3 linked regions of the Homo sapiens genome follow. The protein of the gene in region 1 interacts with the protein of each later gene in a pairwise test. Each region holds a gene or a part of one and is shown in the gene's direction. Other genes may lie near its edges.

The links.
Region 2: the proteins of TVP23B (region 1) and ABHD6 interact in binary tests that used the Homo sapiens proteins (3 or more experiments, as listed by UniProt).
Region 3: the proteins of TVP23B (region 1) and YIPF1 interact in binary tests that used the Homo sapiens proteins (3 or more experiments, as listed by UniProt).

What each region holds. Positions count from the first base shown.
Region 1 is NC_000017.11:18,789,431-18,800,380, forward strand, and holds part of TVP23B (Golgi apparatus membrane protein TVP23 homolog B), read left to right. Parts: coding exon 1-5; intron 6-1,465; coding exon 1,466-1,610; intron 1,611-8,148; coding exon 8,149-8,238; intron 8,239-9,381; coding exon 9,382-9,513; intron 9,514-10,950.
Region 2 is NC_000003.12:58,230,919-58,242,530, forward strand, and holds the start of ABHD6 (monoacylglycerol lipase ABHD6), read left to right. Parts: upstream 1-6,873; 5' UTR 6,874-6,998; intron 6,999-11,612. UniProt on the Homo sapiens protein: Lipase that preferentially hydrolysis medium-chain saturated monoacylglycerols including 2-arachidonoylglycerol. Through 2-arachidonoylglycerol degradation may regulate endocannabinoid signaling pathways.
Region 3 is NC_000001.11:53,851,798-53,858,797, reverse strand, and holds part of YIPF1 (protein YIPF1), read left to right. Parts: intron 1-3,746; exon of another isoform or gene 3,747-3,797; intron 3,798-6,527; 3' UTR 6,528-7,000.

The sequences.
Region 1 (10,950 bases):
ATCAGGTAGGAGGAGAGAAGTTGCATGAGCTGTGTTAGTGTCCAGTGCTGTTCTGTATGTATGTCAGTGCTAGCTGATGGGAGTCAAGGCAGAGTTGTTTCAATGTGCTTGTGAATACTGCATGTTGCTAATTTGACGTTTAGTGTACGACAAAGATGACATTTCAGATTTTCTTGTGAATAATTGGCATACTTAATACTGAGTTTTAAAATCAGCAAATCCAATTATTTGAACACCTGTGTTTTTAATTCTGTGCTATTTTCCAAGAATGTACCATTTCTTTATATAGTTTCTATAGATACATTACATTTTGATTTATTGTGCACATTTCAAAATCACATAACATTTCTATTCTAAATTTAATTCTCTCTAAAGAAATTCACTTACTGAAAGCAAATTCTACTTGAACCCTGCTAAAATGCTGTCTTTTACTTTTCTTTCATCTTTCATGCCAGTCACAAAAGACCACATATTGTATGATTTCATTTATATGAAATGTCCAGAATAGGCAAATCTGTAGAGACAGAAGATAGATTAGCTGTTGCTAGAAGCTGAGGGGTTTGAAGGTAAATGGGGAATGACTGCCAGTGGGTACAAAGATTCTGTCTGGGGTAATGAAAAGTTGTAAAATTGGAGTGATGGTTGTACAAATCTGTGAATGTACTAAAAACCATTAGATTGTTTACCTTAAATAAGTAAATTGTATGATATGTGAATTATATCTCAAAAAAGCTATTAAAAAACAAGAAACAGGCTGGGCACGATGGCTCATGCCTGTAATCCCAGCACTTTGGGAGGCCGAGGCAGGTGGATCACGAGGTCAGGAGATTGAGATCATCCTGGCTAACATGGTGAAACCCCATCTCTACTAAAAATACAAAAAATTAGCCGGGCGTGGTGGCAGGCGCCTGTAGTCCCAGCTACTTGGGAGGCTGAGGCAGGACAATGGCGTGAACCCAGGAGGTGAAGTTTGCAGTGAGCCGAGATTGTGCCACCAAACTCCAGCCTGGGCGACGGAGCGAGACTCCGTCTCAAAAAAAAAAAAAAAAGAAAAGAAAGAAAGAAACAAACTACCTGATAACTTTGTCTTAATGTCTGAGTGATTTCTGAGGGCTAAGGAATTCTTTTGGTGTGATTTGAAAATAGGATTCAAATTCTAAGATACAGTTTCCTTATTTCTCCAAGAGAGATAAAATTCTTTATTATCTATTTTGTGAAAGTTTATATTCAATGAGGTGTTAAAGTCATCTGTGCATAGTGTATTTTCTGTAACTACAGGGCCTAGTCAAATAGTGGGGCTTAAGAAAAAGAGAGCTAGGAGGTTTGCTTCATCCTACTAAAGTCACCTCTTTTATTTTGACAAAACTCTTCACAGTTACACGATGGCTAAAACATTTTTCTCTACATTTGCTAGTACCTGTAGTAAAATGTAATTGCATTTCTTTCATTGTGTTTTGGTTTTCAGACATCCAGTAGCATCGTTTTTCCACTTATTCTTTCGAGTCAGTGCAATCATCGTCTATCTTCTCTGTGGGTTGCTCAGCAGCAGCTTTATTACCTGTATGGTGACAATTATCTTGTTGTTGTCGTGTGACTTTTGGGCAGTGAAGGTAATTTTGATTGTTTTTATTTTAAAATTATATTTAATATGAAAATGATGTATAAAAATATGAGTTAGCATTTTGCATTATTGTTAATCTTTTGTTACTTCAAACCTCATCTGTGTTGAAGTGCTAGATATATCAAATTGCATGTAGTTTTTTTTTTTTTTTTTTTTTTTTTCATTTTTTCCCTTTGACAATACAAGATGAGACATGCAGGTTACTGTGCTGCTGATTTTTCTGTGCCATATTCTAACCTACATCAGCTTTAAAGTCAAATAAACAAACAAAAGTGACTAGCAACCATAGACCCTACAATGTTGCTTCTAATCCATACCATGGGTTTTGCTTCAGGCTTACCTGTAGGTGTGTTGTATATAATTTCTAGATAAGGCCCCAGTGTAGTTTGTCCACAAATACCTAAAAAATACCTACCTTTTGAAAAGGCTCCTATGGATGCTTTAAGGCAGTGTTTCTCAACCAGAGACAAGCTTGCCACCCACTGAATATTTGTCAGTGTCCAAAAATGTTTTTGGTTGTCATGACTGGAGGTGGGAGGAGTGTGCTATTGACATCTAGTGGCTAGAGGGCAGGTATGCTGCTAAATATCCTAACACACAGGACGGCCCCTCTGCAACAAAGAACTACCTGACCCAAAATGTCAGTTGTGCCAAGGTTGAGACACCCTGCTGTAGGGGATAGAAAGAAGTGTAAGAAATGGTTTCAAACTCAAGAACAATGATTAGAGAGATGGATGGATGGATAGATAGGTACATAATAAATAGATAAGTAAGCATAATAAAATATTAAATATGGACTCTAGATGATAGATATTTGGGTATTCACTGTAAAATTTAACTGTGTGTGTTCGAAAATATAGTAAAATAGTGGAGAAAAAAATCAAAGGCTGATTTTGGAGTTTCAGAGACACATACTGATTCAAAGACTAGTAAGATGTTACAACCCTATTCACACCCACCAATGTAGCCATTTTTAGATCTTTTAATTCTTTTTTTTTTGAGACGGAGTTTCACTTTTGTTGCCCAGGCTGGAGTGCAATGGCATGATCTTGGCTCACCGCAACCTCTGCCTCCTGGGTTCAGGTGATTCTCCTGCCTCAGACTCCCGAGTAGCTGGGATTACAGGCATGCACCACCACGCCTGGCTAATTTTTTTGTATTTTTAGTACAGACGGGGTTTCTCCATGTTGGTCAGGCTGGTCTCGAACTTCTGACCTCAAGGGATCTGCCCACCTCAGCCTCCCAAAGTGCTGGGATTACAGGCGTGAGCCACTGCGCCTGGCCATCTTTTAATTCTTAAAGATACCTGAAGTGGTTGGCTTGGTGATGGCCAGTTTCCATAGGCCGCATAATGCTGAGAAGGAAGATTTCAAAGGTCTGTTTTCTTTAGGTTTTTCTGTTGTCCAGTCTTCTTTGGCTTGCATTTCTTTGAATTTCTTCTGTTACTTTATGCTCCAAAGTATTTAGTACATACTGCTCACAGTTTTGATACACGTTTCTTTTTGTTGTTCATAAAATTTCTGTTCAGCCAAATAGAACATGCTTTCCAGTCAGTTCTTCCTGGTAATTTCCAAACTCTTAAAATTTTTCTGGGTTTAGAGTTTTAAAAAATGCGATCAAAATAGTTTATTTTCTGATAAGGTTTATTTGTTTATTTTTGTTTTTAAACAAGGGCTTAAAAAATGGCACCCTTTTATCCTTGGCAAAACTACTTATAGATAGCAAAGCAATGGAGATATAAAGCAAAATTAAGAAGTCAAGAATAGGGAAATTATTAAGTGGACTTGGGATAAGCAGGGTTCTGAAACAGTTAAAATAGAGATGTGTCGTAATTGTTATAAATCTCAATGTACTTACTAAAAAAACAAAAAATCAATCTTCATCTAAACCCCTAGGTGTCCAATCTTTTGGTTTCCCTGGGCCACAGTGGAAGAAAGAATTATCTTGGGCCACACATAAAATACACTAACATTAGCTGATGAGCTTAAAAAAAAAATCGCACACAAAAAAATCTCATAATGTTTTAAGAAAGTTTACAAATTTCTCCTGGGCCGCATTCAAAGCTGTCCTGGGCAGCATGAGGCCTGTGGGCAGAGGGTTGGATAGGCTTGCCCTAGGTGATGTTAATGAAGATAAAGAAGAGGTAGAGAAGGGAAAATAATTTAAAGGTATGCTTAAATGCTAAAGCTTATATTGGTTTTTATTTTATTCTTCACTCTGACAAATTGAGTAAAAAAGGTTAAATAATGGTTTTAAAAATTTAATGGCAACTATGGCTGGGCGCGGTGGCTCACACCTATAATCCCAGCACTTTGGGAGGCTGAGGCGGGTGGATCATGAGGTCAGGAGATCGAGACCATCCTGGCTAACATGGTGAAACCCCATCTCTGCTAAAAAAAAAAAAAAAAAAAAAATGAGCCGGGCGTGGTGGCAGGTGCCTGTAGTCCCAGCTATTCAGGAGGCTGAGGCAGGAGGCGGAGCTTGCAGTGAGCCGAGATTGCGCCACTGCACTCTAGCCTGGGCAACAGAGCAAGACTCCATCTCAAAAAAAAAAAAAAAAATAATGGCAACTATTAGTAAAATTTAAAACCAGTCGTGTATCTTCTGCAACATTGGAGAAGATGGAGCAAGTAAAACAGTTCATAGAGCAAAAGAAGGAAAACAAAGCAACTGTCAAGGAAGCTTAAATCAGAAAGTACATGTATAAAGTGATGTAAGTAATAGCAAATTCATTATAATAGGAAATGTAATTTGATTAAACTACCCATTTAAAGACAAGAATACTAAGATTGGTCAGAAATCAAAGTCCAAACAAAAGATCTAACAACATTAATGACATTAGAAAAAATAAAAGAAGGCAAAGATAACATCAGATCAACTCAAACAAAAAGAAACTTGGCATTGTATTATTATCAGATGAGATATGGATCAGAGTAAGAAAGCACTAAGAGGAACAGAAAAAGGTGATTTTATGAATCACAGTGAAGATCATTCACAGAGTAAAATTATATCAAACTATGTATAGTAAAAAAATTGGAAATATTAGAAAATAGAAAAGCATTATGATGAGTTTAACAAACTACTATCTTTAACAAACCAAAGTGCCAAAAAATAAATAAGTTCTGAAGGATCTGAATGAAATAATTGGCAACATCAATTTGATAGCAGTATTTGGGACTTTGTATGACAGAATACTTTCTTGTTAAATGCCTGTGGGGCATTTACAAAAATTGACTAAATATCACTGTGAAGAAAATCAAAATAAAATTGCCCAAAGCACCTACATTTTCTACTCCAATGAAACAGAACTAGAAATTAATAGAAAGTAGTTGTCGAAATTGGAATTCTTTTTAAAAAGCGAACTACTACATATCTTGGGTTTAAAAGGAAGCAAAAACTGTAAATATAGGTTATTTATACCTTAATGGTGATCATTTACAGTTAAACTTTCTGAATATGTCAAAAACTGAATTCAGAGGGAAAATAATAGACTAAAGCCTTTTATTTTAGACAAGAAAGAGGGAAAATAATGGACTACTTGAGTCCAGAAATTTCAAAAACAAGCAATAAGCGTGAGAAATCAGGAAAATAAACTAATAAAGATAAAAGCAGGAAATAAAGAGTTAGAAAATGGGAACACAGAAGAGTTTGAAAGTATTCTGAGAGCATTCTTTGAAAATACCTATAGAAGAGACCTCTGGTTTAGGTCTCCCTTGCCAGCTCTTTTTTTTTTTTTTACTTAGCATCTCTCCCATAGGAATTTTGGTCTCATAAGACTCTTCCTTTTCTTCTCCTGTATTCCCTTCCTAAGGAGTGCCGTTTATGCTTCTGGTTTTAATTGCTGATCTGTAAGCTGTGTTGCCTCCCAGATCTGTATCTCCATTCAGGTTTGTCCTCACAACTCAAGGCCTCTCCATGTGTCTTCTTGACGTTTTTATGTGGCTGTCTTGAAGGCATCTCAAATCTTTTTTTTTTTTTTTTTTTTTTTTTTTGAGACAAAATCTTGCTTTGTCACCCAAGCTGGAATGCAGTGGTGTGATCTCGGCTCACTGCAACCTCTGCCTCCTGGGGTTCAAGCCATTCTCCTGCCTCACCCTCCTAGATAGCTGAGACTACAGGCATGCACCACCATGCCTAGCGAATTTTTGTATTTTTAGTAGAGTCAGGGTTTCACTATGTTAGCCAGGCTGGTCTTGAACCCAAGTGAGCCACCATGCCTGGCCAGGCAACTTATATCTTAACATGTGTAAAATACTACTTGTCATCTTCCACTCCCCAAAAGCTCTTCTTCTTTGAGTGTTCCCTTTCGTGGGGCCTGGAATCACTATTTTTTTACTTGAGCAAACCAGAAATGTATCAGTTGCCTCCTTCCTACTCCATATCCAATTAATGACCAAGTCCCATAAATCCATAGATTGTACTTTCTTCATTAGGGCATCAGTGCCTGCTGCTCTATCTGGAATGCTCTTCTTCCTCCCACATCACCTTCATACAGGGATTCCTAATCTTTTTATGCCATGGGTCCCTTTCATAGACTCATGAATAAGTTTTCACATATATAAAGTACATAAGATTTCAAAGGAAGTCACTTATATTGAAATATAATTTAAAAATATTAGAAAAGTAAATTTCTGATTGAGTTATATGTGTAGTAGTTCCCCCATTATCTGAGGTTTCACTTTCTGCGGTTTCAGTTACTGCTATACACTACACTAAACAGTAAGATACTGTGTGAGGAGAGAGAACTACATTCACATAACTTTTATTAGATTATGTTGTTATAATTGTTCTATTTTTATTTCTTATTAATCTCTTACTGTGCATTATTTATAAATTAAGCATTATCATAGGTATGTACTTACAGGAAAAAATATAGCATATATAAGGTTTGGTATTAACCACAATTTGAGGCATCTGCTGGGGGTCTTGGAATGTATCCCCTGCAGATAAGGGAGGACTACTATACTTTATGAATTTATTAATGGTAAGATCTAGTGGCAGGTCTAATAACTACTTTCAAAGCAGTGGTGAGCGTAAACAATATGTTAAGATAACTGCAGCAAGTATAGTACAAAATGAAAAATGTCTGTGGTTTCTATTGTGTCAGGGTGTTTTTAATTTTACCTATATTCATAGTTTGTTGTCTACATTCATAATTTAATGATATGCTAACTACTTTCAAAGCAGTGGTGAGCATAAATAGTATTTTGAGGCCGTGCGTGGTGGCTTACGCCTGTAATCCCAGCACTTTGGGAGGCCAAGGCGGGTGAATCACTGAGGTTGGGAGTTCGAGACCAGCCTGACCAACATGGAGAAACCCCATCTCTACTAAAAATACAAAATTAGCTGGGCATGATGGCGCATGCCTGTAATCCCTGCTACTTGGGAGGCTGAGGCAGGAGAATCGTTTGAACCCGGGAGGCAGAGGTTGCGGTGAGCTGAGATCGCCCCGTTGCATGCCAGCCTGGGCAACAAGAGCGAAACTCTGTCTCAAAAACAAAAAACAAAACCAAACAAAAAACAAAACTACAATATTTTGAGGTAACTGCAGCAAATATAGTACAAAATAAAAAAATGCCTGTGATTTCTATTGTGTCAGGGTGTTTTTAATTTTACCTACATTCATAGTTTGTTGTCTACATTCATAATTTAAAGATATGCTAAATTTTAGCCAGAGGTTAATGAAAATGAAGGTAACATTTTTTTTTAACCCATCGAGGTTCACAGAACCACTGAATCTATTAGTGGACACCATTAATTAAACATCCATGGTACTGTTGATTCTTATTTATCTTTTATATTTCATTCCAAATGTTGACTCCTCAGAGAGTCATTTTCTGATACCCAGACTAGATCCAATTTCCCTGTTATACTCTTCAAGCATCTCACACTTTTCCCTTGCAGGACTTAACTCAGTTGGTAATGGTACATTTGTGCATTGGTTGTCTGCCTCTCTTCACCTCTTTCCCTGAGGAAGGAGTTGGTATCTGTTAGTCACTGTTGTATTACCAGCACATAGTAGATGCTCAGTAAATATTTGTTGAGTAAATAAAGATTAGGAAAGCTATCAAACTAATTTATTACCTTAGTAAGTAGGAAAAGAGCTTGGTAACTTGAGAGACTGACTGAAGGCCAGTGTCTATAATCATTTTCAGGGATATGTAGTTGTAAAATACATGTAGCTATAGTCAGGATGTAAAGTAGGTCACAGTAACCAAATAGCAAGGGGTTTAGGGAAAATTAGGGAACTGGAGAAAGGGCAAATTGTTCATGAGGGAAAAGAGAAGGTGTAATGTTTATGGGTGGACTTGTTGCTTGCTCTGTCACCTCTACCCCTATTAGTCCTGCCATTACCATTTTACTTAATCACTTAGCCAGGCCTGATACATAGTAGTCTTTGCTAACTGGATATTATGGAGGTAAAGCTGAAGGTTTTTGTTTGTGAAATGTTACACTAAGATAGGAGCTTGTGATAGATCTTTAAATAATGCTTTTAAAATGTGCCTGTTTATATTAATCTTCACCAGAATGTCACAGGTAGACTAATGGTTGGCCTACGTTGGTGGAATCACATTGATGAAGATGGAAAGAGCCATTGGGTGTTTGAATCTAGAAAGGTAAAGTGCCTTTTTTGTTTTAAATAATGTTATCAGCTAAATTATTTGTAGACTATATTTAAATACTGGAAGATGAAGTATTCAGAATTAAAAACACTATACCAAATCACTTGGCATGTCAGCACTAAAGGAGATGGCCTTCTAGAATTTAATGCATTTTTCTGTCTAGTTCAGACCAGAAACAAGCAATATACAGAACAGAATCCTTTGAGGGAAGACACTGGGTCTGAGTTCATACAGTGTGCTAAGCTGCCTGTCAGGGATTGCTGATAAAAGATCTCTGTGTTGCCTTTGTTAGTGTCTCCATAAATCCCTCTATGCTCAGCAGATAACTGCTTTTAACATCTTGTTCTGTCTTTGCTCCTGTGGTCGTCTTTCATTTCTGGGCAGGAAAAAGGAGGAGGAGTGCAGCTGGATAGAATATCTGATCGGAGCACTCTATTCCTAAGCTTCTGCCTTCAGGAGCCCTGGGGATCCTGGTCTGTTTTGGGTTAGCCTGCTACACTATAGTGAATATTCACTTTCCTTGTGGAAATAAGTTTTGGAAGCAGAGGACCAAATTCTTGGCGACAGTACACCAAGGGTATTGACAAGTTATTTTAAGAAAGTGGCACTGTGTTCAATGAGCCTGTATTCTTTTATATTATAGAATCTACCTTGGAAACAACTTACCACCCTTGTAACTTCCTGGGTATTGCTAAGACATTTTGATTATTGTCCAGAATCCCTTGATTCCGTTTTTTTTTTTTCCTCTGGACCCTAATTTGACCTTTTAGTCTCCAGAATGATTATAACTGTGATTTCCTTGATCATTGGTAGGAAAGGTATCATTTAGAGCTTCCTTATGAATAAATAGTACAAGTGCAAGAAGAATTGAATAGAATCCTATCAGAGACCACTCTTTACTGTCATGAGTTGTGGTAAACCATCCATCCTGCCCTGAAAATGCAAAATTCTTGAGTTAATATAGATCAGTTCCTAAAATTACAAGAGTGATAGTCATGTATTTTTGGGTTCTAACTTAGGAGTTGGGCTGTGTGTATTAATATTTGAACTTGTGGGTAATATGTTTTTTATTAAACATGTTGAACTTTTTATTGATAAATTTCACAACATGATAATTGAATTTATGTTCTTTTATAGGAGTCCTCTCAAGAGAATAAAACTGTGTCAGAGGCTGAATCAAGAATCTTTTGGTTGGGACTTATTGCCTGTCCAGTACTGTGGGTGATATTTGCTTTTAGTGCACTCTTCTCCTTCAGAGTAAAGTGGTTGGTGAGTATCAGTGTAGAACTTTCAAATAATCCATTAAGATGTCTGATGGTAATCATAGGAAGCAACAACTACAACTGAGTCCTTATCATTAGGGACCTATCTTGAATAGGCAGCTTCATCATGTAATTCCCAAGTTTTGCTTCCCAACTTTACCTTTCTCTATAATACTGGAGAAGAGATCCTAAAAAACCCCTTCCCACCAGTTTTCTAGATTATTAGTGGTCTTTTCTGGAAATAATGGTTGGTAACCTATTGCTGCCTAACAAATCACTCCAAAACATAGTGGCTTAGAGCAACAACAGCCATTATCTCACAGTTTCTATGGGTCAGGATCTTGGGAAGGGCTCTGCTGGGAGATTCTGGCTTGGGGTCTTGAGTAGTTGTAGTCAGACAGTAGTTGGAATGATGGGGGTTGTGAGCCATCTCCTCTTCATGAGGTCCCATGGCCTCTCCACATGTTTTTCCCTGTGCCTTCGTTTGGGCTTCTTCATGGCATGGTGGCCTCATGGTGGTGGGACTGCTTACGTGGCAGCCCAGTACTTCACTTGTGGGGTGTTCTAGCTCGCAAGCTTTTACAATCTAGCTAAGATGTCATAGCATCGCTTCTGCTGCCCACTCACATTCAAGGAAATGGGAATTAGGCTCTGCTCTTGATAAGGAATAAGAAGGTGCTAGAAGACTTTGTGGAAGAGGAGATATTGTTGCTGCTGTCTTTGGAAAATATAGTTTGTCACTTGACCCAATTTGTGAGTCTTACTCTTTTTTATATCTCATATTATTTTTTCTTATTCTATCTTATATCTGATATGAATAAATATTGTGTGAATTTTCACACAATATTTATTGATATCAGATATATTTTGGCCTTAATTATGTTTTTCCTCCTAATTTGTAGTATTTTCTTAGTCCTATTTTGCGATATAGATTCTTTTTTTCTTTGTGTGTGCTCATACATTCATACTTTCCTTCTTTGGATTTGGAAGCTTATTGGAAGCTTATTGTCTTTTTTCAGTTCTTCTGGTAGTTACCTTTAATTACTTTATATGTTTATATCATTACCCTCTTTCATGAATTAGGAAATTTATTCAGTATTTATGGAGTTCCTGCTCTGGAAAATGGGAAACTTTACGCTAATATGGTTTCTTTAACTTCTCCCTCCTCCTACCTCTAGAGTTTTGCTTATTATAGTCTTATTTTAGTCCTTCTAGTGGTTTTCTTTGTAACATTAATTAATGTACTTAAACCTGTTTATTGACTTAATAGACTCTGTTTAGAAAGGGAAGAAAATAAACACTCATATTCCTTCCTATGAGTTTCCTCCTTTCTCTCTTGTTTGTTCCAATGTTATTTTTGTGTTACCAAGTTTTATAATAGTTATCTTTTGAAAACATATTTCTTACTGGTTGTTTAGTCTTTGATCTGTTTTTTAAAAAAGTC
Region 2 (11,612 bases), on another chromosome or scaffold:
TAGCTTTGTTTAATTTAAAATTTAATGAGAAGTCTGAATTTGTGTTCATCTCAATTAAAAAAAAATTTCAAGGAGAGAGAACTACAGCATTTTATTAGAAAATTGCTTCCAGGCAGGACATGGTGGCTCAGGGCTGTAATCCCAGTACTTTGGGAAGCTGAGGGAGGAGGATGGCTTGAGGCCAGCAGCTCAAGACCAGCCTGGGCAACATAATGAGATGAAAGAAAGAGAGAAAGAGAGAGAAAGAGAGGAAGGAAGGAAGGAAGGAAGGAAGGAAGGAAGGAAGGAAGGAAGGAAGGAAAAAAAATTGCTTTCAGTCTCATTTTGTCAGATTAAACAAAATTGGGCCACTGTTGTTTAACCTTCTATGACTTCACCAAACTGATATTTCGAAGTCTAAATTACTTCATCTTCTCCATAAACAGATTATAAAATGCTTTGTCCAAAGCCTACTACAGTCAAGATTCTGTATGCAATTTCCTGCAACAGTCTCCAGGTCTATTTATGCTAGTAACTGTGAAATATTATTCCTTTGGTGTGATCATTCACAGGGAACCCAAATGAGCTCTTGTACTTAACCTCTTTTGTTTTAGTTTAATAATCAGGTGCAGAACTTTGCTAAAAATCAACACCATACCTCTTGGTCTCGAGATCTGTTTATCAGTCTTTCTCCTTTATTTGAAATGGGACTCTCACTCGTTAAAATCTTCTAGCATAATTTATCAAAGATCACTGAATATGTTTCTTAAGATCAGATCTAAATATCCTTTTAGTATCTTGGGCAGTAATTTCTCTTGATCTGGTAATTTGAACTAATTTAAATTTTTGTGTGCTCTTTCTCCATCTTTTCTTCCTATCCTGAGCTCAGTTTCCCTCTTTGTGATATTTTCACCTGATCAAATCTTTTTCCATGATCAAGATGATGTAATATAGGAAACCGGTAGTTTGGCTTTCCCTCTGCCATCTGTTAACATTCCATATGCTCCGTTCCTTTTGCATTCATCATTTTTATCCTAATTTGGTTTTACATTAACCTTTTCCTGTCTTTAGCAGTGGAGTCCCAATCATTCTGGGTGTTAGTATCCCTCACCTCTTATTAAAGGTCCAGGTTAATCTTTTGGAAAATTTCCATCACCTTCTGTCTTAGTCCATTTTATGTTGCTATAAAGGAATACCTGAGATTGAGTAATTATTAAGAAATAAGGTTAGGCTGGGCACGGTGGCTCACGTCTGTAATCCCAACACTTTGGGAGTCTGAGGCAGGAGGATCACCTGCGGTCAGAAGTTCGAGACCAGCCTGGCCAACATGGTAAAACCCTGTCTCTACTAAAAACACAAAAATTAGCTGGGTGTGGTGGCATGTGCCTGTAATCCCAGCTACTCGGGAGGCTGAGACAGGAGCATTGCTTGAACCCAGGAGGCATAGGTTGCATTGAGCCAAGATTGTGCCACTGCACTCCAGCCTGGGCAACAGAGCAAGATGCTGTCAAAAAGAAAGAAGGAAAGAAAGAGAGAGAGAGAAAGAAAGAGAGAGAGAGAGAAAGAAAGAAAGAAAGAAAGAGAAAGAAAGAAAGAAAGAAAGAAAGAAAGAAAGAAAGAAAGAAAGAAAGAAAAAGAAAAGAAAGAAAGAGGGAAAGAAAGAAATGTAGGTTTATTTGGCTCATAATTCTGCTGGCTGGAAGGATCAAGACTGGCCATGTGATGAGGGCCTCAGTATGCTTCCTCTCATAGTGGACATAGAAGCAGAGCATGCAAGTGTAGAGATCACACGGTAGAAGAGGAAGCAAGAGAGAGTAGGGAGTTGCCAGGCTCTTTTTATATACCAACCAGCTCTCACGGGAAATAATAGCTTACTCACTACCCCATCCTGTCAAAGGGCATTCATCTATTCATGAGGGATCTGTCCCCATGCCCCAAGCACCTTCCATTAGGCTCCACTTCCAACAATGGAGATCAAATTTCTACATGAGATTTGGTGAGGTTCAACAAACCATATTCAAACTACAGCATCTTCCCACTTCTTTTCAGGTGCTTGGCAAGCCTGAGCTTATCAGAGTGCTGCAGGTGCAGTGACACTGATCTCTCAAAGTCCTCCCTTTCCTTCCCATCCAGGACACTCTCTGGCCTAGTGCTATGCTCAACTGGCATTTTCAGTGAATGAATCAATATAGTAGGAATTACAGTCTTAGAACTTCCTGATTAGTGAGTCCTTTCTATGATTATATACTACATATGACATGTGTTGACATATGTTGACTTGTTGTCTTGTGATATGTTCTTATTACTTAACTCTTGCACTGATGTTCTTTTTTTCAGGTGTATATAATTTAGACTGTTCTCCTTAAAGGAAGGGGTAAAATTGTATCTACCATAGCTTGGGTCCTATGCATAAGTAAATGCTTGTAAACATTTAATTCACAAATAAATGAATAAGCAATATTTTAAGGCATTTGGAAAGAAATATTTTTAGCCTAAAAAAGTTATTACTTCATAAAATGCTCAGTACAAGCTTTTTAAGGTGAGATTTTGTTGTATTCTTCTTATTTAATTCCATTACTTGTCATGGCAGCAGGTGGCTGAATGGTTAGAATATAGATTTTGTGCTCAGACATACAAAACTTTGTTTGAATTCTGGCAGTATCGTTGACTAGCTGTGTGACCTTGGTGATATGGTTTGGATGCTTGTCCCCTCCAAATCTCATGTTGAAACGTGATTCCCAGTATGGGGGTGGGCCTAATGGGGGTGTTTGGGTCATGAAGGCAGGTCCCTCATGAATAGATTAATGCCCTTTGGTAGGTAGGGGTGGTGGGTGAGTTCTCATTCTATTATTTCCCAGAAGAGCTGGTTGTTACTAAGAGTCTGGCAGGTGACTGGATCACAGGAGCAGACGCCTCATGAACGGCTTAGCATCATCCCCTTGGTGATGAGTGAGTTCTCAGTCTGGCAGTTCACATGTGATCTGATTGTTTAAAAGAGCGTGGCACCTCCTTTCTTACTCTCTTTTGCCCTCACTGTCTCTTGCTCCTGCTCCCTCTTGCTCCCACTGTCTTGCCTGGTGACACACTGGCTCCCCTTTACCTTCCACTGTGATTGTAAGCTTCCTGAGGCCCTCATGAGAGGCAGATGCTGGCACTATGTACAGCCTGCAGAACTGTGAGCCAATTAAACCTCTTTCCTTAATAAATTACCCAGTCTTGGTTATTTCTTTACAGCAATGCAAAAACAGACTAAGAGGCCAACATGGGGAAATCTTGTCTCTACTAAAAATACAAAAATTAGCTGGGTGTGGTGGCAAATGCCTGTAATCCCAGCTACTCAGGAGGCTGAGGCAGGAGAATTGCTTGAACCTGGGGAAGTGGAAGTTGCAGTAAGCCGTGATCGTGCCGCTGCACTCCAGCCTGGGCGACAGAGTGAGTGAGACTCTCTCAAAACACACACACACACAGACTAAGATATTTGGATAGGTGATTTAACACATTTGGGTAGATTTGAGGCTCAGAAACTCTCTGAGCCTCAAAATGTTCCTCATTTGTAAAATAGGGCTAATAACAGAGTGGTTGGGAGGAATCCATGAGATAATGCTTGTAAAGCACTGAGCACAAGGTGAGGAACACAGGAAAAGCTCAACACATGGTAGCTAATTAACATTTGCCTGTTCTGTGCTACTCATCATGCTTTTCCCTGGGGAGATGGAAGTGGAAAAGGAATTCACAACTCCGTGGAGTTGAGAGTTGCCTAAATAAATAAACATATCGTCATGTATAATGTGCTACAGGGGTGTGGACGATGGAAAAATTAATTTTGCCTGGATAGTCAGGTAAGGCTGCTGGGAGGCAGTGATACTGGAGTTCCAGATTGGGCAGAGGCCTCAGGGATTGGCTCAGAGTTGTCACACAGCAAATGCTTGGGGAATAGATGGTACGAATGACTCATAAGCTCAGGGGTGCTGCCCAGCTGGTGTCTGTGTACACATGGTATCTTGTGTTTTTTGCTTTTCTCCTGCACACATTTCCATGTGCTGACATGGCTTTTGTGTGATTCCCTCACAGCTTGTGTGTGATTCCCTGATTAAATAGCTTCTAATATTTTATTATTATAAATAGACTCTAAGTCCTTGAGGGCAAGAAGTGTGTCTCTGTTCATCCAGACAGTACCTAGTATGTAGTAGGTTCTCAGTAATGTTTGCTACATAAATGAATGAGTGAACTCCTTTGACCGCTGGCCCTGCCATAAGCTGGCTGTGGGATCTTGAGTGAGTCCATTAACCCCTCTGTACCTCGGTGTGTCTGTAAAGTGGGTTAGTATAACTCACAGGTGAGCATATTTCACTATGTGTTGTGAGGACTAAGTGATTTGATGCCCTGCGGCTGAAGGTAGTAAGTGCGCATTAAATAATGGCATCCTTCAGCTCTGATAGCTGTGCTGCTGCATCCAGGAGACATGTACAGGCTTCATGGCAGAGTGAATCCTGGAGTGTTCTGCTGCAACTGCTGGCAGAGGAAAGGTTTCAAAACTCTTTCTTAATGCTAGGGTGAGACCTGTCCACTGATAAGGAGTTTCTATTTGGGATGACTAAAGGTGCCATCTGGAAAGTACCAGGCCCCTGGGACTGCTCCCTGGTCTCCCACCTAGGTGGGATTCCTCAGTGACAGCACTCAGGGGTATCACCGGCTCAGGGAGGGGCCGGAGGTGAGTTCCCTTATCTCCTCTTGCCTCCTTCACTGTAAAACTGGAGCTAATAAGGTTTCTCTCCTGTCAGCCATCCAGTGGAGATAAGTCACCCAGAATGTGACTCCCACATGGGGCTCAAAAAGGTGTTTCTAAATATAAAACTCTGAGGGAAAAAAACCCTCGGGATATAGAAATTCCAGGCCCTTGGAGACGCCCAGGGTCACAGGCTGTGAGTTAAATAAAAAACCCACCAAACTGATGAACTACCCATTTTTAAGGTTTTGGAGAGGGAAAATTAAAAGACTAAGGAGCAATTGTTTTAAACTTTATACCAGGTGTATTGATGGCTTCTAGGCTGGGGCCTTCCAGGAAGTCATTCATCAATTTCATTGTCTATTTATTCACCCCCTGGACTCCTGTTTTGGTGAATGTTCCTGAGTCCAAGATGCTAATCCAATAGGTGGCCAGTAGTGACTGAAGGACATTTAATCCCCACATTTTGTGCTATCTCTGTGGACCTGCTCTGGGGATGTTGGTGGACTGCTGGCTTGGAAAGGTTCTGCTTCAGCCGTAAGGAGAGATAAAGCCAGAGAGGTGGGACTGAGCAACCCGCTGTTTGGTGAATAAATTGCCACTGAAACTCGGGGGCCATTCCCTGAAGTGAATCACATGCAGCCATTGAAGTCTAAGTGATAAGGCAGCCAACAATTTAAAGGAAAATGCTCCAGCCCAAGCCAGGGGGACTGTCCCAAACTCCGGATGAATTCCAGCTGCCCTGCAGAGCAGGGTTTACAGGCATGGGGATCACTAGTGGCTTCAGAGATGCCCCTTTGCCACTTCTCCGGGACTTCTTGACTGTGTCCTATTCTTAAAACCCAGGACCTGCACCACTCAGCCAGGCTCCACCAGCGTGGAGGCCTTGGCAGGCTGAGGCCCAAAGGCTGCCTTTGTGGGGGATTTAAACGGCCAAGAGAGTCTTGCTGAGCCCTGGCCCCTTGACGTCTGGAGTGGCAGGCCAAGCACTCAGTGCAGCAGGAAGATCTGGGTGCCACTAAGGCCCCTAACAGGTGTAGTAAATATCTGTTAAATGAACGAATACATGTTTTGATGAAAGAAGCCCACAGTGCAGTGTGAGCCCAAAGGGGTCTTACTGAAGGCTTCCTGGAGGAAGTGGCAGCTAAACTGAGACATGGAAAACACGGAAGAGTAGCCAGGCCAAGCTGGGGTTTAACTGTCCCTAAAAGAAAGAAACGACCATAGCAGGGGTTTAACCAGAGGTGGCCGAAGGCCTTTCCAGGTGCCCATTTCTCCCGTATAGCTTTGGAGTCAGACGATCCTCGGTTGGAATTCCCAGTTCAGTCCTTACAGTCTGACGTCCCGCACAACCCGACGCCGGCAACTGTCTCCAAACACCCGAGAGCCAGGGCGGGAGCATGAGCGCCTACGGTGTTCCTTGGGGTGGAGCCCTCGCAGTGTCCAGAGGATTTGGGGGCTCCTGCGCCCCCATTTCTCCCATTTCCTGGACTATCCAGGGCAAGCCCCTCACCTCCCTGAGCCTCGGTGTCTTCTGAGAAAAGAAGTCGACCCCAGTGCCTACCTCATAGGATTACGTGAGACAACCGATGTCAAGCAGTGTTGCTTTGCTGCCTGAGAACCCCTGCCTGTCCCTTTCTCTCTGATGCCCTTCGGGGCAGAGATCCAGAGATCCTGCCTGAGTCACTTTGGCGGGTTTAATGCCCAGCCGCGCCAGGCACACAGTAGGTGCTCAGTAAGTGAAACAGTGCCGGGAAGAATTCGGGCCGGGGATGTGGAACTGTGTGTGGCTCTGCGGGCTCAGAGGCCCTCCCCGCGCCCCGCCACCGTGTGCGTTCCGGGGCGGGGCGGGGCGGGGGCGGGGGCGGGGGCGGGGGCGGGACCGGGCGCTCGGGCTCCGCCCCCGGTACCTCTGTAGGCGATCCTGCTCTCGCCGTGGCTTTCGGGTGCTAGGAGACAGTTGCCGGCGTTGGGTTGTGCGAGACGCTAACTGTACCCTCCGGGTTTAACGCTGTGAGGCAGCGCGCGGAGGAACTGGGGATAAGCGCCCCGGAGCCCCCAAACAGAGCGCGGCCGCTGGGGGACAGCGCGCGGCGCCGGGTCGGGGCGGGGCGGCTTTTCTGTCGGAGGACGCGAACCGGCACGCTGCGCCTTTAAGGAGTCCAGCTGGGCTGGGCGCCGGAGCTGGGAGCGGCGCGGGTAGGAGCCCGGCGGCAGGTCCCAGCCCGGGGCTAGAGACCGAGGGCCGGGGTCCGGGCCCGGCGGCGGGACCCAGGCGGTTGAGGCTGGTCAGGTGAGCGGAGGCGGGCGGGCGGGCGGTGGTGCGCTCCTAGGGGGATGGGGCGCCCTGATGGCCCCGTGACCTCTCCCCCAGTGTCTCCCTGCAGCGGCGCATCGAGTGGAAAGAGTCGGCGATCTGCACTTGCCTTTCCACTCCGCTCCCCGCGCGGGCGCTGCCCCCACCTCCCGCTGCCTGGATAGGTTTGAGATGCCCGAAACCCGGCGCCCCATTTCCTGGGTCCAGCCAGCCTCTTGAAGCCGGGGGACAGAGTGAGGACGGGTCGGGACCTGCACCCTCTTTCTACTTCGCCTCCCCACCCCCTGCGCCCGCAGCAGCCCTTAGGCGCCCCTCGCAGTGCCGAGAGGATTTTGGGGTCCTGCAGCCCTGTTTCCCCCATTTCCTGGAGAAGGACTGCAGCTCGCCCACCCAGATAGCATCTTGCTCCGTGTCACGCGCCGCCTCCGCGCCGTCCCCAAGATCTCGCTCCGCTACTCCCCTCCCCCAGCAGCCTTTCAGCTTCCCTTTCCCCAGCCTGCCCCGGCTCCCGTGCCCTTGCGCCCCTTCCGTGTCGAAACACTTGAATCAGGATGCTGTCCAGCCAGGTACCCGCCGGCAACTTGCGGTCCCCCGCCTACAGCGACACAGGTTTCACGGCTGCCTTAGAAATGCGGATTGTGTAACGCCGGCTGCAGGGCAGTGCACGTGCAGGGTTTGCGCCCCTGAGCCCACAGCGAGGCCAGGTGACAGAGTGAGGCATGGGGGAGTGGGGGAAGAGGAGGATGCCAGAGGGTCTAGATACTGTGCATGCAGAGAATATGTATTTTGAGCCCTTTGTATGCCCCAGGAGCTGGGTGGTTAGGAAGAGGAAATAAAGTGGGGGTCTTACTCCAGCTGGGACCTGGAGGCCCTCATTTATCTCGCCGCCCCCCTCCCCGCTGCTCCCGCCTGCTCAGAAATCCCTAGTGGCTCCACCTGGCTAAGAGTTTAAAGTAGTTTATAATGAATAATAGCTGACATAGAATAAGCAAATCTTGTGTGCCAGGCCCTGTCCTAAGCCCCTTAAAAGAATTACCTGCCATACTTTCCCCAACAGCCCCTTGAGGTAGGTACCACCGCTGTGCCCATTCCTGAGAGCAGGAATATGAGGCTTCCAGAGGTGGTACCTTCCCAAGACACGAAGTGAGTCTGGCCTCAGAACCACCCCCTTCCCCCAACCGCCCCCCCAACCCGACCTCGAACCACTAGACTTTTTACCCAATTTCAACAAATTCTTATCAAGAACATTGTTATAATATAGGAAATTAGAAATAACAGAAATTAATCACCTGTGTTTCTAGCACTAATTTGTTTTTCTCAGACCAGCAAGGGCCTCTCAGCTTCTGGTAATAGTACCCACTTTAAAGGGTAGTGGCAATATTTAGATAAAATAATGCACAGGGCCCAGCATGTTTTAAGCACTCAGAAAGCAGCAGCTGTTATTATGAAGAGTGGTAGTTGACCACTACCTTGAATTACTGGAAAAAAATAATTAATAAATGGCTCACACTGACTCTACAGAAATTAACCATTTTGTGTGCTCAGAAAGGCCTATGAGACTTTCTCTATTTTCATCTTTTTATTATTTTTATTATTTTGCCTTTTCGACACATTCTGTGGCTTTCGTCAACTCCAAATTATCCATTGTCTTTGTAGTTAGAGACAGAAGTGCCCTTCTGGTTTTTTTAGCTTTTAAAATGTGTGACCTTTGATTCTGTGAGCATCTGCAAACCTAGAGTAAAAGATGGGAATGCAGTTTGTGCAACTGGGAAGTAATTCTGAAACTTGATATGAGAAAAAAATTGTCCTTAGAGGTGATCCTGGTTTGCAGTATGCGTTGGGTGAGGTCTATCCTGGGGGCGAGAAGTTAGACTCAAAGATTATCTTTGGGTTTGGAGGGAAGAAAGGCAAGCATGAATGTTTTGTCTCGGTGTGGTGGGCTCACACCTCAAAGTGGCCAGCACTTTGAGAGGCCAAGGCAAGAGGATCACCTGAACCCAGGAGTTCAAGACTAGCCTGGGCAACATGGTGAAACCCCATCTCTACCAAAAAAAAAAAAAAATTAGCTGGGAGTGGTGTTGCGTACCTGTAGTCCCGGCTACTTGGGAGGCTGGGGTGGGAGGATTGCTTGAGCCTGGGAGGTCAAGGCTGCAGTGAGCTGAGATTGCTCCACTGCACTCCAGCCTAGGTGAAAAAGTAAGACCCAGTCTCAAAAAATAAAATAAATAAATAAAGAATGAGTGTTTATCCTAGTAGGCTAGCTAAGATTGGAAATCAGCTTCACTATGTCATATTCTTTAAAAAAATTTTTTTTTTTAGAGATGAAGTCTCACTGTGTTTCCTACTCAGGCTGACCTGGAACTCTTGGGCTCAAGTGATTCTCCCACCTCAGCCTCCCAAGTAGCTAGAACTACAGGTGTGCACCACCACACCTGGCATGCTATGTCATACTTTTTATGAAACTCCTGGTTATTTTGGTGATTAGATCAATTATTACCGTGATGAGTGTTCAAAAGAAAAGAGGCAAGACATCCCCATCAAAGCTAAATATTTGGAAGATGCCAGGAAGCTAGTTCTGCAAGTTGAAAAAAAATTCTTTAAAAATTTCTCCTATTTGAGTCTTAAAAAAATTTTTTTTTTAAGGGACAGGGTCTCACTCTGTTACCCATGCTGGAGTGCAGTGGAGCAATCTTAGCTCACTGTAACTTTGAACTCCTGGGCTCAAGCAATCCTGCTACCTCAGCCTCCTAAGTAACTGGGGCTACAGGTGTGCACCACCAAACCTGGGTAATTTTTTTTTTTTTTTTTGAGACGGAGTCTTGCTCTGTCGCCCAGGCTGGAGTGCAGTAGCGCGATCTCGGCTCACCGCAACCTCCGCCTCCCGGGTTCAAGCAATTCTCCTGCCTCAGCCTCCAGAGTAGCTGGGATTACAGGCATGCACAAGCACGCCTGGCTAATTTTGTATTTTTAGTAGAGACGGGGTTTCTCCATGTTGGTCAGGCTGGTCTCGAACTCCCGACCTCAGGTGATCTGCCCGCCTCTACCTCCCAAAGTGCTGGGATTGCAGATGTGAGCCACCGCGCCCGGCCAAACCTGGATAATTTTGAAATTTTGTTGTTGTTGTTGGTTGTCACAACTTGTAGGTAACATCAAGTGGGTAGAGGCCAGGGATGCTGCTAAACGTCCTACGATGCACAGGACGGTGCCACAACAAAGAATTATATGGCCTCCAGTGTCACTTGTGCCACAGTTGAGAAACTGAAACTGGATATGATTTTCACAACATTAAAGTCCTTTCTGACCTTGCATGTAGTTGCCTCTTCCAAGAAGATCAAAGTATTCTCCTAAACCGGACCCTCAGAAACCCTCTGGATCCTATTTGACGCTTCCCAATCCTAGAGGCCACTTGGGGTGTTGCTGCCTGTGGCTGGATGGGTTTGGGGTCTGTCATGAGCTTCTGTGCGGCTCTCTGGTGCTGTACCAAGGAAACTGCTGATTCAGGGGAGCAGGACAGCACTCAGGAGGTGTGGGCAGAGGTTCTTACACTGCTGCAGGTTGGGATCCTCTTCTTTTTAAGTAATATATTAACAGCAGCCTTTGCTCTTAGGCATTTTTCCAGAAGCTGTGGCTGTTTGGCTGTTGGCATTGGGTGTTTGCCTTGTGATATACCCAGAAAAGGATTCATACGTTACATATGATGAAGTCTGGGGATGGGACTGGATTCTGAGAGTATAAAGATGGCAATGCAGACCCTGCCCAGAGACTACTCAGGCATCTCAATAGGCCTGAGCAGTGGCCATGCAGGGTGGTGGAGGTATGGCAGGGCTGCCTAACTCTGCCTGTGAAGTCAGGCAAGATCCCAGCAGTGCAGAGTGAATGCTTAGTATCTGCCTGTCACTGCTTTGAACAGTTTCCTTGCATCATCCCATTTCATCCCCACACTGAGGTAGAATTCTAAGAGGTTAGGTCACTTGCTACAGTCACATGGCAAGCATGTGACCAGAGCAGAGTCACAGTGGTCAATGGCAGAGCAGAGATTTGAACCCAGGTTGTTGAGCTGCAAAACTGAACTGTCAGGAGCATTTACAGAGAGCGGCAGTGCTTTAATAGCTAAGACTTTTAGGATGGGCTGGAGCTCGCCAGGCGAGAGGGAGAATAGGCGTGCCGGGGAGAGAGGAGCAGGTGTGTCAAAGTCCCGGAGGTGTGGGAGAGCACGGCATGTCTGGGGGTTGCAGATCATTATTGGAAGGGATGGAGGGCAGGCAATAGGCAGGTGATAGAAGAAGATGACCCTTGAGAGATGGGCAGCACCAAATCCTAAGTGGCCTTCAACATCATGCTGAGAGCCACTGCCAACCACCAGTGAATTAGCAGAGAGGAAGAGAAAGCTGTGTGACATTGAGCAGCTTGCTTAATTTCTCTAGGACCCAGCTGCCCATCCAAACTAAAACCTCTAAAACTATACTGCTCTGACGAATGTTTCTTTCATTTGTGGCCATATGAGCAGAGTGAAGGAATGCCTGCATTGACACTGGTGGGGCAGCCCTGTTGATTCATGACTTCTCCCCCTAAGGCTGTGTGATGGGTGCA
Region 3 (7,000 bases), on another chromosome or scaffold:
CTTGGCATGGTGGCATGCTCCTGTAGTCCCAACTAGTTGGGAGGCTGGGGTTGGAGGATCACTTGAGCCTGGGAGATGGAGGTTAAAGTGAGCTGTGATTGTGCCACTGCATTCTAGCCTGGATGATAGAGAGAGAACCTGTCTCTAATAATAATAATGATAAATCCCAGCCCTACCATGTACTAGCAATGTGCCTTGGGTAAGGGGCTTACTCTCTTTGAGCTTCAGCTAACTTGTCTTTACAATAAGAATGACACAAACTATATAAGATTGTAGTGAAGGTTGGAGATTATTTTTATAAAAGCTCCTGGCACATAGTTAAGGTGCTCAGCAATAAAATCAAAGCTACTGCCACTCTCAGAGTGCGTCAGTAGTTTATGTTTGGTGGCTCCCACTGACTTTACCTTGATCATTTTTTCCTTTTTGTAAAACAAATGGGGATTTTCCCTCTTAGTTGAGGAATCCAGGTTGTAGGCCCTGTAGGTTGACTAGATATGACTGGTCAAATGCTTTCCAGTTCCTTAATGGTAAGACAGTCACCCTGGCCAGTAGAATGACTGGGAACTATTGTAAAATGTCATAGTCTACCACTTTCGCCTCTTCCTCTCTTCTCATGGGTATGCGATGTTAGAATCAAAGAAGATCAGAGCCCTTGGAGACATTAAATAGCATGGGCTTCCCTCCTCATTTTACAATAAGGAAGCTGAGACCGAGAGAGGACAGTGCCTTACCCAAGGCCACCCCAGAGTTCTGGGGCAAACTAACATGTGTCTATCACATTCCATTTGACAAAACACTTTTTTTTTTTTTTTTTTTTGAGGTGGAGTCTCACTCTGTCGCCCAGGCTGGAGTGCAGTGGCGCAATCTTGGCCCACTGCAACCTCTGCCTCCCGGGTTCAAGAGATTCTCCTGCCTCAGCCTCCCAAGTAGCTGAGATTACAGGTGCCCGTCACCACACCTGGCTAATGTTTTGTATTTTTAATAGAGATAGGGTTTCACTATGTTGGCCAGGCTGGTCTCGAACTCCTGACCTTGTGAGCCACCCACCTTGGCCTCCCACAGTGCTGGGATTATAGGTGTGAGCCATCGCGCCCGGCCTGACAAAACATTTCCTAGTTTATTCTCTCATTGGCCACTCTTACTGGCCCTCTTGACCACATTGTATGTATAGATGAGAAGGCTGGGCTGAGTAAATCTGGGCTGACTAAGATCACCTACCTCTTAGAGGCAGAGCTGGGACTCATATCTAAGTCTTGGGAAGCCAATTTTTGAGGTTTTTCACTTTCCCATTTTTTAGACAAATGTTCTTTTTACCACTAAAACGTGCAGGTTCTCACTGCTAGCCTTTGGCTGTTTGATGGAGCCTTCCTCTGCGGGTCTAGAGGTGTTTAGTAGCAGTCTCCACACTCCTTTGATTGCATGTCTTATCAGCTGAGAGTTTGCGTGCTGTATTAATTATCTATTGCTGCCCAGTGGTATTACCACAATACACATTCTCACAGTTTCTGTGGGGCAGGACTGTGGGGATAGCTTAGCTTGCTCCTCTACTTCAGATTCTCTCTCAAGGCTGCAGTCAAAACATTGGCCAGGGCTGGTGTCTCACCTGAAGTCTAGACTGGGAAAAGATCTGCCTCCCAACTCACAAGGTTGTTGGCAGGATTCAATTCCTGTGGCTTCGTAGAATGAGGGCCTTCTTGCTGACGGTCATTTGGAGACCACCCTCAGTTGCTTGCCACGTGGGCCTCTCTGTATGATCACTCACTTCATCAAAGCCATAAAGGGAGAGAGAGGCAATCGAGTCTGATAGTGAGATGGAAGTTGCTGTCCTATATAATGTAAACATAGGAGAGATGGTCATCACCTTTACCATCTTCTATTGACTAGAAGCAAGTCACAGGTCTTGCCTACCTTCTAGGGGAGGCAATTACACAAGGGCATGAATGCCTGGAGACAGGCAGGGATCACTGGAGGCCATTTTAGATTCTCAGTCACAAGCACAAACTTGTGATACGTATATATTTGAAGTATTTGCATATACTGTTGTCAATCCATATAGGAACTATTAAAGCTTTAAATGCCATAGCCAAGTTGTCAGTTTAGCATTATGGGGCCAAGAAGGGAGGGACTCAGTTGGAGTTGGCCTGGAGGGAAGCTTCAGAGAGGGGCTCTTGTTTGAACTGGGTCATAAAGGTTGAGCACAGTCAGTTAGCTGTTCTGGAAAAAGTAGTCTGCTTCCCATGGCTTTTGGGAAGATGAAGACCTAGGCTGTACAGGGGAACCATGATAAGACGATGTGGACTCACATCACTGAGAACGAGACAATTCGAGCCCAGCTGGAGAGGGACAGAGGTAGAGAACACAATGGCAACAGTTTCCTGGGTCTCTCTTTTGGCCCAAAGTACCTGACATCGCCATGTTGAGGGTCTCTCTCAACCTGCCCCTGAGCTAGGACTTAAGTTATTTCATTTCATTTTGGTTGTAAAGGCCTTCAGAGAGTCAGAGCAGCATCTGAGAAGAGCCTGCCCCTCAGGGCCCTTGAAGACTTAGCAGACTGGTGTACACAGATTTGACGCCTCTGCGCTTTGCTCAGATCTATGAACTTGGCTGTTAGAGCCTCCATTTGGGTGTCAAGTCTCCAAATGAGGTAGTGATGAACAGCTTCTTTGCAGCCTCCCTGGCAGAAGCATCAATTGCTTTGCTGATAGAGAGGCTGTCCAGAGCCCTGAATGCTGCTGATTTACGAGCTGGCTGTGCCTTCTACTGTCATCTCTGGACTCCCAGCTTTCACTGAAAAATAAAGGCTTCTAATCTCACCAGTAACCTACCTTCCCCATGTAAATCTGTGTATTGGAAAACTTAGCCTAGAGCGCATTCCCAGGAGAGCATTGGAAGGCTTAGCTTAGAACACATTCCAGGGAGAACCCCTTCTCTCCCTGGAACCTCAGGATCATAGGGGAGCTTCCAGTTACAGTCATGCATTGCTTAATGATGGGATGCATTCTGAGACATGCGTCATTAGGCAGTTTCATCATTGTGCCAATATCATAGAATATACTTAAACAAACCTAGATGGTATAGCTTACAACACACTTATGTGGGATAGCCTATTGCTCCTAGGCTACAAACCTGTGTGGCATGTTGCTATACTGAATACAGCAGGCAGATGTAACCCAATCGTAAATATTTGTGTACCTAAACATAGAAAAGGTACAGTAAAAATATGGTGTGATCTCATGGGACCACCATTGTATACGTGGTCTGTTGTCAACTGAAACATCATTATGCAGTGTGGGACTGTACTTGTAATCAGCATGCTACCCCTATGTAAGTTATTGAAATAATATAAAGAATATCTGGCTTCCATCCTTCCTTCTTCATTAACTTTTCACATGAGGGCAGTGCTATGTCTTCTCTGAGCCAAGACCCTGGTAGAGCCTGGAAACTGTACCTGGGAAGCCCTGCTTTGGCTTGAGGGCTTGAGACCGCATCCAGATTGGGGTGAGCTTTCCAGGGGCAGTGACAGGTGGGGCTGTCCGGAGGAGGGCCATCAGCAGATAATCATATCGCAGTGTGATCAGGGCTTTAATTAATGATGCAGAGAGGGCTTCTGGAGAGTCCTTTGTCATTAAATCCTCCTGATTGGATACACAGGGTTTGTATGCAGTTATCCTGTCACTCGCTCACATTGTCAAGAGTGTTCATTTCACAAGCCTTGTCTACTTGGCAATTTCCTGTTTATTTTTCAGGACTCACTTGAGATACCCTCTCCTTGCTGAAGTTTTTCTTGACTTCTCCAGGTAGTATTACTTATTTTCTTTTCTGTGCTCTTCTACAGCTCTCGTATGTTCTTCTATTATGGCAGTTTGCTTATTCACTGTAACTTCATAGACTGAGAGTTCCTTGAGGGCAGAGCTTTATTTACCAATATAGCTCCCTAGCACCCAGCAGACACTTGGAGAAAGCTTCATTTGAACAAGTTGTTAGGCCAATCATATAGCATCAAAACTTTCCTGGATTTATGTGGCAGGTTACTTGGGAAATCTTTACTTGTTCATTCATTGAAGTTCTACTCTGTGCTGGTGAACAACGGAGATCAGTCCTTACCCTCCCAGATTCTATACTCCAGTTTTACATCTCATACGCCACACAGACTAGAAGGCCCTTTTACATTAAAGAGAGAAACATGATTATGGGAACTTCTCATTGGAACATCCCAGATCAGACTGTGGTGACATTGGAAGGTTTGGCTGCAGGGCTGAGGCAAGGAAAGGGACAGAGAATGCCCATGCGATAGTGCAGCCACCCAAGATGGGGAGCCAAAAATGGTCAGGAGTCAGGTCATAGGCCAAGAGGTGGTAGAGGCAATCTTCAAGAGGTAAGGAAGTGCTGGCTGATGGTGACATTAGGGACCAACTTTGGCACAAAGGGCAACAGCATCTTACTTTTCTCCCTCTGGCCTAAGTGCCAAGAATTCCCAACCTCTTCGCTTCTGGCCACCCATTAAAAGTTGGCAGCAGGAGAAGGAATTTTTTTTTTTCTTTTTTTTCAGACAGAGTCTCACTCTGTTGCCCAAGCTGGAGGACAGTGGTGCAATCTCGGCTCATTGCAACCTCCACCTCCCGGGTTCAAGTGATTCTCATACCTCAGCCTCCCGAGTAGCTGGGATTACAGGAATGCATCATCATGCCTGGCTAATTTTTCTGTATTTTTGGTAGAGATGGGGTTTTGCCATGTTGGCCAGGCTGGCCTCTAACTCCTGGCCTCAAGTGATCTGCCCACCTCAGCCTCCCAAAGTGCTGGGATTACAGGCATGAGTCACCATGCCTACCTGAGAAGGGAATTTTCTAGTCTTCATATTCTTCCCTAGTCTTGACATTGATTTGGAACAGACAGCTAGAAAGAGGAGAGAAAAACAGAGTATATATTTATGAATATAAAATCTTGAGTGCTTGCTCTGTGGGCCCGTTTGTCCCTACCTTTATTTAGCGTTTCAGAACCCAAGTTGATGGTTACTAAAAGGCTGATCAGGGCTTTAGGTTCTTTCATGCCAGCAAATTACAGCATCTGGCTTTCTCCAGCCACTTTTCACAGATATTTTGTTGGCAATGTTTCTCTTTTCTTGAGCCAGTAGACTTGGGCAGTTAGCCCTTGCCTTAGCCTCACCTTCGTGGTATCATCAAACGCTGACATCTGAATGTGGTATTGTCCTGTTGATGTCTCCAGGAAGGCCTAGCTCATTCTCCCAAGTGGAAGGCTATGCATTAGGAACTTATTCTCCACCATATTCCTTAGTCTTCCCTGGATTTAACTCTATCTCCAGCCCCTCTTTCCAAGTTTCCCTGTCTTGCAAATCCCCAGGTAGGTATACCAACAGTTGCCTCAAATTCATTACATTCCAAGCTATACTCATCCCCCACTACAACCAGATCCTCCTCATGTTTTCCTGTCTCAGGGAATGGCACCATCATTTATACTGTCCCTGACTGCAGAGTAGGTTAGATTCTTTATTACACCCTCGCCTGGCAAGTTAAGATTATAATTAAATAAATAATATTTTCTGTATTTGTTTGCCCTGTTGCTTCTCTTGGTAGACTGGTTCCTTGACAGTTGGGACCATGTCTGTCTTGTTCATCACTGTCCCCAGTACCTGGCACATGGGTCCTCAATATTTGTTGGATTAATTAAGAAATCCATCCAGTCACCCAAGATAGAAACCTCAGCATCAAGGTAGATTGTAGATTCCCCCCACTCACCTTCCACATAGTATCAGTCAGCAAGACCTGTCTTTTCTATCTCTGAAGTATTTTTCATCTCTGTCCTGTTGTTACCATACCCAGTGTTCAGGACCGATCATTTCATATTTGAACTGCAGCAGTAACATGATGGCTTTCTCCACTTCTTTTCTTTTTCTCCTTCCAATTCATCCTATACACAGCCACAGGGGTCTTTGAAAATTTATAATTCTGACCACGCCTTTAACTATGTCACTTCCCTACTTAGAAACTTTTTTTTTTTGGCCCCCTATTGCCCAAATAACAAAATTGAAACCCCCTGCATTGCCACAATCTATCCCTGATTTATTTGTCCTGCCTCATATCCTGCCATTATCTCCTGTATAACCTTACATTTCAATTACCACGGTTTTCCAGGTCCCAGATCTTTAAGTCCCTCCATATCCACTCTTATCTTTTCTCCTCTAGTGCTTAACACAGTGCTGTCACGGAGAAGAGAAAGAGAGAAGGATGGGCAAAGGTAGCTTTAGGATCTGGCTTGGAAAGGGTCACTGGGTTTCCAAGCAAATAGAAGAAAACTTTTTAAAGCATCATCTTTCTTCCAACACTAAGCTCTACTTTTAGCATCAAAATTAGACTCAAGCCTCAAGATTTAGGGAATTGGTGGCAGCAGACTGCTCCGGTGTTGGGAGTTATATCTCTAAACATACATGAATATCCTTTTCTACAATGTAGCTCTTTCCTGTCGGGGTGGGGGGGTGCTTTATCTTGAAAGTTTCCCGTTTTGTTTTTCAGTTCTCTTTTGTTTTTTGGAGCATGGTTCTTTGGGAAGTGGCATCCACTGCAGGAAAGCAGAATGAGCAGAGCCAGCAGAACTGATGGAGTGGCACAAATTCCCAGTGTCTGGATGGTGCCACACTGGCGCCTAATCACCCGTTTAACAAGCAGAAATTAAATGTTGCTCAGCACATGTGTCTTTCAGCTCTTCCTTTTCACCCATGGATGATCATTGCGAGCATGCGCTGATTGGACTGAAATGCCAGGGAATAGGTTAGGCATGCTCAGTGCCGTCCCTTTGCCACCACAGTCAAATGACATGCTTCACTGTGGTACCTTAATACCTGAAATAGAACCATGGAAAATTCTGATGTCCTCTCTCTGAATTATGTACAGACTACCTGGGGGATCCTCTTCTCTCCAAATGTTAGCCATCCTGAAGTAGCCGAACAGTAGAAACTTTGGTGGGGATTAACCGGGAGCTTGAAAAT